Regions from separate parts of the Homo sapiens genome. Here region 1 is linked to region 2. The links come from fine-mapping of genetic effects on gene expression. A gene starts in region 2. The other region holds a variant in brackets. All regions are shown on one strand. Distances are from middle to middle. Region 1 holds the start of CLDN20 (claudin 20). Region 2 holds the start of TFB1M (transcription factor B1, mitochondrial).

What was found. PIP is the estimated chance that this variant, and not a neighbour inherited with it, causes the effect.
Region 1: its variant is the best candidate, but not a certain one, in a credible set for the expression of TFB1M in whole blood (TOPMed, PIP 0.57).

The regions. Positions count from the first base shown.
Region 1 is chr6:155,260,083-155,264,479 of GRCh38, forward strand. TFB1M (transcription factor B1, mitochondrial) reads right to left here. Exons shown (of 7, transcript NM_016020.4): 6 at 191-318. It overlaps CLDN20 (claudin 20), which reads left to right and starts at 3,931. Exons shown (of 2, transcript NM_001001346.3): 1 at 3,931-4,206. The variant T/G (reference allele first, on the strand shown) is at 1,529.
Region 2 is chr6:155,311,994-155,316,392 of GRCh38, forward strand. It overlaps TFB1M (transcription factor B1, mitochondrial), which reads right to left and starts at 2,491. Exons shown (of 7, transcript NM_016020.4): 1 at 2,303-2,491. The coding sequence starts at 2,435. RefSeq lists enhancers at 2,266-2,585, 2,584-3,574, 2,656-2,705, 3,256-3,305 and a silencer at 2,756-2,835.

The DNA.
Region 1 (4,397 bases), 52 kb before region 2:
GAGAGAGGCCACCTGAGGTCTAGCAAGTCTTTGCTCTCTCCTCATTGGCAGTGAAGTCTTGTCCGTCACAGGCCTGAACTAAGTGTAATACTCAGAGCTTTAAGAATAGAGCAAACAAGGTTCTCACTCTTAAAAAGTGCCTGAGGATTTTATAAAGACTGCAACTGAAGAGAAGAAAAGGCATTCTTACCTGAGCCCTCGATGGCAGTATTTCCTTCGGAACTGAAATACATTCTGAACCACTTTTTCCACCAGCTTGAATGGCTGCTCTATCTTGGGCTGTATCAAGGGAGTGAAGTGCACCACGCCCACGTCCACCTTCGTTGTAAGCAAACATATTATCATTCTGTGGCATGATATGTGGCATAGTGTGATCAATCAACTCATCCTTGTAAAACAGGAGGATGGGCTGTCAACAGCCTGTTTTCATAAACAGACCTTTCCACGTACTTCGGTTTCATCTCTAGGCATGGAAGATGGTACATTCTGGATTCGCAAATGACATGGAGAAATCAGCCGGCTGCACCTGTTCTCTAATGACATCCACCAGACCTGTGCTTGATGGTCACTTAATTTTAAAACACAGTTTCACAATGGCTTAAAAATCAATCCAAATCATTAAAGTCAGTCAGCAGATAATAGATGGCATTAGAATATTTTAGTTTTTGAATGAGGAAAAAAATAAGCCGCAGCAGCAGCTTCAAGACACAGAGAGATGGCAGACAGGCCCCCAGGGACCACTCAGTGCTAAACTTCCCAGATAGAGACACCACTTATTTTCGGTAGACACTGATTAATCAGCTGGACTGAATTCATGAGTGTAGTCTGAAAAGCCACAGAACTTTCTAGTAGCAATTTTAAATGCCCCGAAAGGCATAGGCAGGACTGAAATTGAAAATGGAAACCATCAAAAAATGTCACTGTTTGATAGTGTTTAAGCTACTGCCAGCTGTGGAGATTCTTTAATTGTCAGAAGATAAAACTTTTCAGGCATATCTTATAAGAGATTTATACCCTGATTTGTTCCAAAAATGGACTCATGGTGATTCACAAGGACAAATTCAAATACCAAAGGAAAAACATTTAAAGACAGAGGGAAATGGATTCAAAACAGTAACTACACACACAAAAATGCTAACGGAGACCATGGTCTAGGAAATGGGAAGTCTCGTCATAATTGACAAAAGCCTCAGTCTCCAGGAATTGTTAAACTTGTTAATGAGGATCTCATACAGACTCAACAAAAGGCGAAGAAAGTACGGCAATTTAGGAGGTGTGGGCTGCACCACTGCTTTTCAAAAGGAACTCCATTGTTGAAATCCCATAGAGGTTGTCATTTTCTCCTAAGAGGACTTGCTTCTAAAGATCCTTGTGGCTACATAATTCCTTAAACAGATGAAAATGGGAGACTGGCTTTTCTGGTTGTGTTTCTTTTAGGGTAGAAGGAAAACAACTGAATATGATGTGAGACTTTATGGACAAGAAAGTGAAAATAAGCTGTGCTCAGCCTCACACAGCCTGACGCGCT[T/G]GTGGGAGGTGCCTGTGGTGCCTGAGCTGTGTCATCAAGGCCCCGGACCCCTGAGAGCTTGCACCTCCCTATTTAAACAATCAATGAGCCTGTCCCCGAAGGTTTCAGGTCAGCTACAGCTGCTCCTACTGGATGGAATGGGAAATAGAAGGCTTTGGTGGTAAGGGGCGGTGTGGGCTGGCGCATGCTGAGAATGTGCCAAGCGGCCTTTCCACACCCCAAATGCCCACCCCCAACATCCATCAGCCTTCTTGTGAAGTCCAGCAGGCTGTTCTTGTGAAGATTCTATGGTGGAACAGTAGTTATGAACAGTGACTTAACTAAGATGTCAAATGCTCTTAATAAATTTTAGTAAGTTTTTTGAATTGTGTGCTATATGTTGTTTCATGTTTCCTCAAGTTTAGTAACAACTACCTCTTCCTACAGGACTTCCCTTAGACTTTAACAAAACGCACCATAGAACAGTGCCCAGCTTGGAGAGGTCTGTGGTCATCAGGGAAAGAGGGACTGAAGAAGACAAGGGGCTGTGGAGTGGATGCAGGGTGTAGGTGGGGTAGATGTACTGCTATAGGGAGAGAAGAAAGGTGGTTTCAGCTCAGGGCAGTTCTGGGGAAGGAAAAAGAAGACCTGATCTATGAATGGCAGAGTGCAGGCAGCAGCCCAAGACACACTCCACTGACTTCAGATGTCAGGTTCCTTCCCACAAACTCTGAACTATCCTGCCTACCTCGCCTCCTCCTGATTTGTATAGAGAAGTGGTCCCAACTGTCAGGCATGTGTCTGGCCACTCTCTACACCTCGCCAGCCTTCTCTCACTGGACTCTCCATTTCCCTTTCATCCCCTGAGCTTCCTGGCACCCTTGTCCCTGCCTCCCGTTCTCCAGGACTCATCTCCTGTAACCCTTCAACTCCAGTTCTCCCAGTGACAAAGAGCCAATTCTATCAATTCTTACTAGCAGCCTGCTAGTCTCCAGAAGAAATACTCTTAGCAAAATCTGAGATAAAATCTAATCCCTGCCTAGGCCTAAAACCATGAAATATTATCAAAACTCTACATAAGGCTTACAAACTATTAAGACCAAAAGCACAAATACAGAGATAGATGCACTCTCTTCCAGTACAGAAACTGCCACTTTCAGCTTCCTTAGATTTTAAATTTTGGCCTCATCTTTATTTGCCTGATTTCATTCCTTTGAGATATAGTTGGTATTTGCAAATACAGGAAGTGTCTAACTTTTGCTTGATTTAAATAAAGTTTTAAAACCCTGAACAAATATAGTAGTACCCCATGTAAACTATAGCGTCGACTTCTAAAGTTTGAATACAATTCCAATACTCTGTTAAGTTGGCTTATATTATGTCACGGCTAAAAGAGAATTCCCCTCACAAATGCAGTTACTATTTAGTGGGAGATTCTGTAAAACTCAGCGTCAACAAAGCTCTTCCAGTTATGTCTCCTGCTTCTGGGACGGCCAGGACCTCTCCTGTACCACCCCTTCCTCTCCCTTTCCCCCAAAGGCACCTTTCAGAATTACTCTGAATGATGGAGCCCATTTTTTTCTAGAACTATAGGAAAGCTGCTTGGTAACTATGGTAACGAATACAAAAATGTTTTTTACTTATAATTGAATGCTTATTTAAAATTACAAGTATTATTTTTTCTTCCTTGAGTTTTAAGTCTATTAATGGGTTTGATTACAAAAAAGAAATCAGTACAAAGGCATCAGAAGTACTTAAAATATTCTAGTTTAATGCCGCCAGCCTTTTCCAAACTCAGTCCATCAGTATACCAAAATGACCTACTAAAATTTCAAATGAAAGGATTTAAAATGAATTTAAATATTTGCCTTTCTAACCCTATACGTCAACGCTGTAACAAGCTAAGACTGTTTCTCAGTGTTAGCAGCCTTGGCCATAACAGGCCCGAGGCAGATGTCCTAGTTTCCAGGCCAGGGTGTCTAGGACGTGACTGGTTATCAGCTCAGAGCAGCACTTGGAACTCACAAGGGACCCGGGCTAAGGAGATATTAAATCTTAAATCTTAGATATTAGATATTACAACTGAGAACTGTAATCAACATGATATACAGAGGACACTGAAGAGACGTACAACTCAGTTCCTGATGATTATCATATGCCCAAAAGCTAAGTCACGACCACATGCACAGACACAGAAACAATGCTGGCCACTGTCTACAAAAGGGTCTTCATTCAACACTCTCACGGTGTTCAAGACCATTAGAGGACAAGATAGTGGAGATGAAAAAATGATGAGGAAGTTACTATGTAAATAGCCAAGACACAGCCATAACTTAAGACAACAGAAGGGCTAGTGAAAAAAAAAAAAAAGACCACAGGGAATAATCAGTAAGACTTTAAAGAACAACATATAAGAAGGATTCAAAGTTCGAAGTGGGATGATCACGGGCAGACCTGGGTGGTTGGGAACAGGAAGCATATGGCATCTTGCAGGCTATAGGCACCACAAAATGGAACGCAGGAGGACAGGGGCTTGGGAGAGCCACTTCACTGTCGGGTAAAACAACGGAGCAAGATGAGTGCCTCCGGATGCTTGGTTTCCCCACCCTCCAGTGTCTGCTTGCTCTTCAAGTACCTCCACCAAGCTAATGACAGTCCACTTTAGGACATCACGGGCCTCGAGGTTACAACTTTCCCAGGTAAGGAGAATCCCAGGTAGAGGCAGCAAGTCACTGATGCCTGTGATATGATAATTATGCATGTCATAGAAAAAGAAAATACTGACAAATGTGAATGTAGATCACATTTTCTGGAATTGGTTCACTCTACCTGTGATCCATGTCCAAAAGCCAATTTAAGGAAAGAATTTCCACTGTAAAACCTTAAAGCT
Region 2 (4,399 bases):
TCAAGTTAGCAGCCCTTAAGACATCATAAAAAGGTAGAGTACTGACTCTGTGCAACCAGTCATCACATCTGGAAAAACATGCAATGGGCTGGTCTTAGTGATTCTGAGATATGGAAATCCAAGGAACTGGTCTTCCTAGGATAGTGGAAATTTAGTCACTAAAAACATACCAGCACTTCTTGTAGGTGTTCACAGTCCTATTTTTGCTTGTTTTCAACAACATAACTTTGTCAGCTAAAATGCGGAAACTAGTTTCTCAGCCATCCAAAAATGGTTTAGTCTTTTAACAGGGAGGGAATTAGCATCCACTGACCATCTTATCTATTATGATGGATTTACACACATTCTCACCTAATCCTTACATGTTAACCAAGGACTCCTATCCCAATTTCATTTCTCTTAACTTTTCAGTTTCCTTGTCTATTGTTTTATTTGTACAAGGTCATGGACTTCAACATAGGTATAAATCCTAAAGCCAATGCCTCTCAGAGGGAACAGGAATGATACATTATGGAATAAATTTAATACTCTCCTTCTTTAAAATGGAGAGCTACAACAGTAGGCAGGTCTCTGCTCTCAAACTTTTCAGGCACATTGAAATACAAATGAATATTAAAGAAGCGCTATCAAATCAATGAGCTTGGATTTCAATCTTGCTCTCTTCTGCCTGAGCTTCTAACCTCAGCTAAGTACCCTCATCTCCGTTAACTCTGGTTCCCATAGAAAGAGTGGATAATATCTAGAATTTGAAACTTACTCCTGAAGATAAAGGCTCATGAGAAAATGTATTTGAAGGATTTTAAAAAATACACAGACCTATAACTTCTGCCCTGAGAATGGTGATTTATATTTAGAATGTGGCTAATAACAAGCAGAAAAGGCTGGTACTAGCTATTACTAGAACCAAAGAATTTTAGAGTGGGCAATCTTTTAAAGTAGTAGGCCCTTCTTCCAATTAAAAGATGAGGAAACTACTGGACATGGTGGCTCACACCTGTAATCCCAACACTTTGGAAGGCCGAGGCGAGTGGATCACTTGAGATCAGGAGTTTGAGACCAGCCTGAGCAACATAGTGAAACCCTGTCTTTACTAAAAACACAAAATTAGCTAGGCACGGTGGCTCACGCCTGTAATCCTAGCTACCTGGGAGGCTGAGGCACGAGAATCACTTGAACCGGGGAGGCGGAGGTTGCAGTGAGCTGAGATCATGCCATTGCACTCCAGCTTGGGCAACAAGAGTGAAACTCCATCTTAAAAAAAGAAAAAAAAAAAAAAGAGAAAACTTGAGTTAAATTATTTTATCCAAAGTCATATTGGTACAGGCAGAATAAAGACTACATGTCCAAGAAATAAAACATTTTATGTTTTCTGGAGTGTGCTTCATTTAAGTGAAAATGAACTTTTTGGGTGTGATTTACTGCTCTTTTCAACTTCTGAAGTGGGACTAAATAGAATGAAATATGAAAATCTCAAAACCTAAGTACTCCAGCCGTGACTTAGTAGACGTATTTGTAATATATTTTTGCAACCTCATCTCATAGAACATCACTAAGCAATGGTGATGGTGGTTAAACCAATATATAAATACATTCGTCAAAACTCATCAAATTGAGCACTTCAAACTTATTAATTTTATTGCACATAAATTATATCTCATAAAAAGTAACTTTAAACAATTAGGTGTGGGAATGTAAACTTGCTAAAAGTAAGCTCCTCGAGGAAACACCGCCTTGTTCACGCCCATATCCTACCCCCGGCACTAGCACAATGTTGCTTGTGTAATATGTACTTATGAATGAATATTAGCGCCCCCGAGGCTTAGACTGAACAGGTAAACGTTTAAAAAACGAATCATACGAGGGATACTCTTTTCACCAAGTTATTGATAAAATCCTCGCATCAATTTAAATTCTGGTAACTTTAAACTGCATGTAAAGCAACTGCAGTCAGCATGTGCTGTACTATTTCAGAATGATTGATTTCACAGTGACCCAGATTCCAATATTCACTAGCGCCTTTCACGACCCATGAACCCTTCCTCCCCTAGGGAGCTTGGCATTTATGCAGCCTGCCGGCAGGCTACACCCCCCCGAACGCGGAGTTTTGTGAGCAATCAACGCACTTCACGTGTCTCCTGGGCGGTGGGACCGGAGTTCTGATACAAAGAGGTCGAAGGACCTGACCAAAAGCCCGTCGCACGCCAGTGCCTGGACACCCGCCCGCGGGGACGTGCAAGACCCCCCGGCCCACGCCCCCACGGACACTGGGGAGACATCCGGGGAGCACTGCTAAGCCATCCACCTGTCAGCCTCAAGTCCAGGAGGAAATTCTGTGATAGCTGCTTCGCTGCTTGCAGTCTTAACAACTTAATGATTTCTCGAATCGTGGGCAACGGAGGGAGACGGCAAGTGCTGAGTTTTCCGGAGGCAGCCATGATACGCGGCAAGCACCATCCAACCCTACCTCACCCAGGACCTTCACCGCCGCTCCGAAAGAAACGCGCAGGGGAGGAACCTGCGAGACCTAAGGCCCGCCTCGGAGTCAGCCCCATTGGTCAGACCTATCCCACCGGAAGCGATGACCGCGGACAGGAAATTCCCGGCGTGCTGAGAGCGCATGCGCTAAGTCCTGCCGCGAGAAGGGCAGGCTGGGTGGTCGGCGGCTTCCGCCTGTGAGAGCCGGGGGAGAGCCGGGTGGACTAGGCTTCTCCTGGGCGGGCTATGGGGAGAGCGCCCAGGAGGGCGGGACGAGGCGGGGCCTGGACAGGGTGGGGTTTTTCGGAGGAGTTGCTCTGAGAGGTGCAGCCGGTTTACTCCCGCCCTGAAGTTCCCAAGGGCTTCCGGCTCTTTAACGTTCTAAATACCTGTCTGTGAATATTAGAGGAAAAGCGGGTGCTTAGAGGCAAAGCTACTGTTTGTTAGCAATTCTTTCTTACTGTGAGGCGTTTTTAGAACCGCCGCTCTGCAGATGCTGCATGATGGGTTTTTAACTTCGTTCAGCCTCAGTTTTTTCATCAGTTAAATGGAGCTAATGTCTACCTCAAAATTGTGAGCACTAAATGAGAGAGATCGCCTGGTGTGCACGTTCAGAACATAGTGCACGCATGGCATTGGGTAAGCTCCCACGTGATCAGTGGTGGCTGTTATTATTTGGCAGATGAATAATTGGCCAGTGTAAAGAGGTCATTCGATTTGCTAGGATTACAGCTAAGAACAGAGAGAAGACTGAAATATGAGTTCTGTCTTTCCGTTATACGAGATAAAAACAACGAAGCAAAAAAAAAAAAAAATTAAAGTTTCTCTGATAGGTGGGAGAATTTTGCTGTTTTAACCCTGCTTATGTTTGGACATTGCTGCGTTGATCACAAATGAATTTTAAAGTTTCTGTTCCTCAATTAGTAAGTTTTTAAAAAAGCTAATGGAAAACGAAACAACTATGGGTATGGATATAAAAATGAGGAGTACTTTGAAATTCCAGTGGAAAACTCAACCACCTTCTATAAAAGCTGTTTTAAAAGGAACTGAGATAATCTCCTAGCTTTAAAAAATAGTGATGACTACCATAGAGGTAAGGAGATTTGCCCAACGTGGCATCAAAATGTAGACTGGAAGTACAAACTCTTGATTCAGATATCTTATCGTCCAAAACACAGTATACCTGACAAAGCATTATTTCACAGTTATATTCATTATTTCCCGTACTCCTCACAATGGTCCCATGTGAATGAGATTATTATTCTTAGTTTGCTGTGAAGAAATAGGGGAGGTGAGGTCATTTGACAATGCCCAGAGTCAGACAGCAAAGTACAGAGAGAAGACAACCTGAGTTGTGTTTTTTCTGAGTTCTGATCTCACTGGCCACACTCAAGTATCAGCTTATTATTTTTAAGTTAATATGTGTTAATTTTGTAACATCTAAATATATAGAAATACGAATCTAGGTGTAAACATAAGCTTACAGTTTTCATATGACTATTTAAAACAATTGCAATAAATATATACAAAACCAATACAAATGGTCTTATTAATTGACAAGGATGAACACTGTTAAATCACGACACTTAGTGCTAACTGGCAGGTTTTCTTTTTTTTTTTTTTTTAAGTTTCAGCCTACCAGTGATCCAGTGTGCCATGTAATGACTGAATGTTCTCATTAGTTTTCTGGAGTCAAACTATTACCAAATCTTTGTTCAATTTTTTTTCCATTGTCGCTTGTCTTTCTTTTGGAAGAATATGGAAGCTACATATTAAGTCTGCCTGCATCTGTTTTCAGTAGCTTGGAAACAAGTGAATTTGAATTATTTGGCACTAATGCTACCATGAACACACACGTTGTGTAACAGGTATAAAGAGGATGTTCAGATGACCCCAAATATAATCACATGAGCTTTTTAAAAGA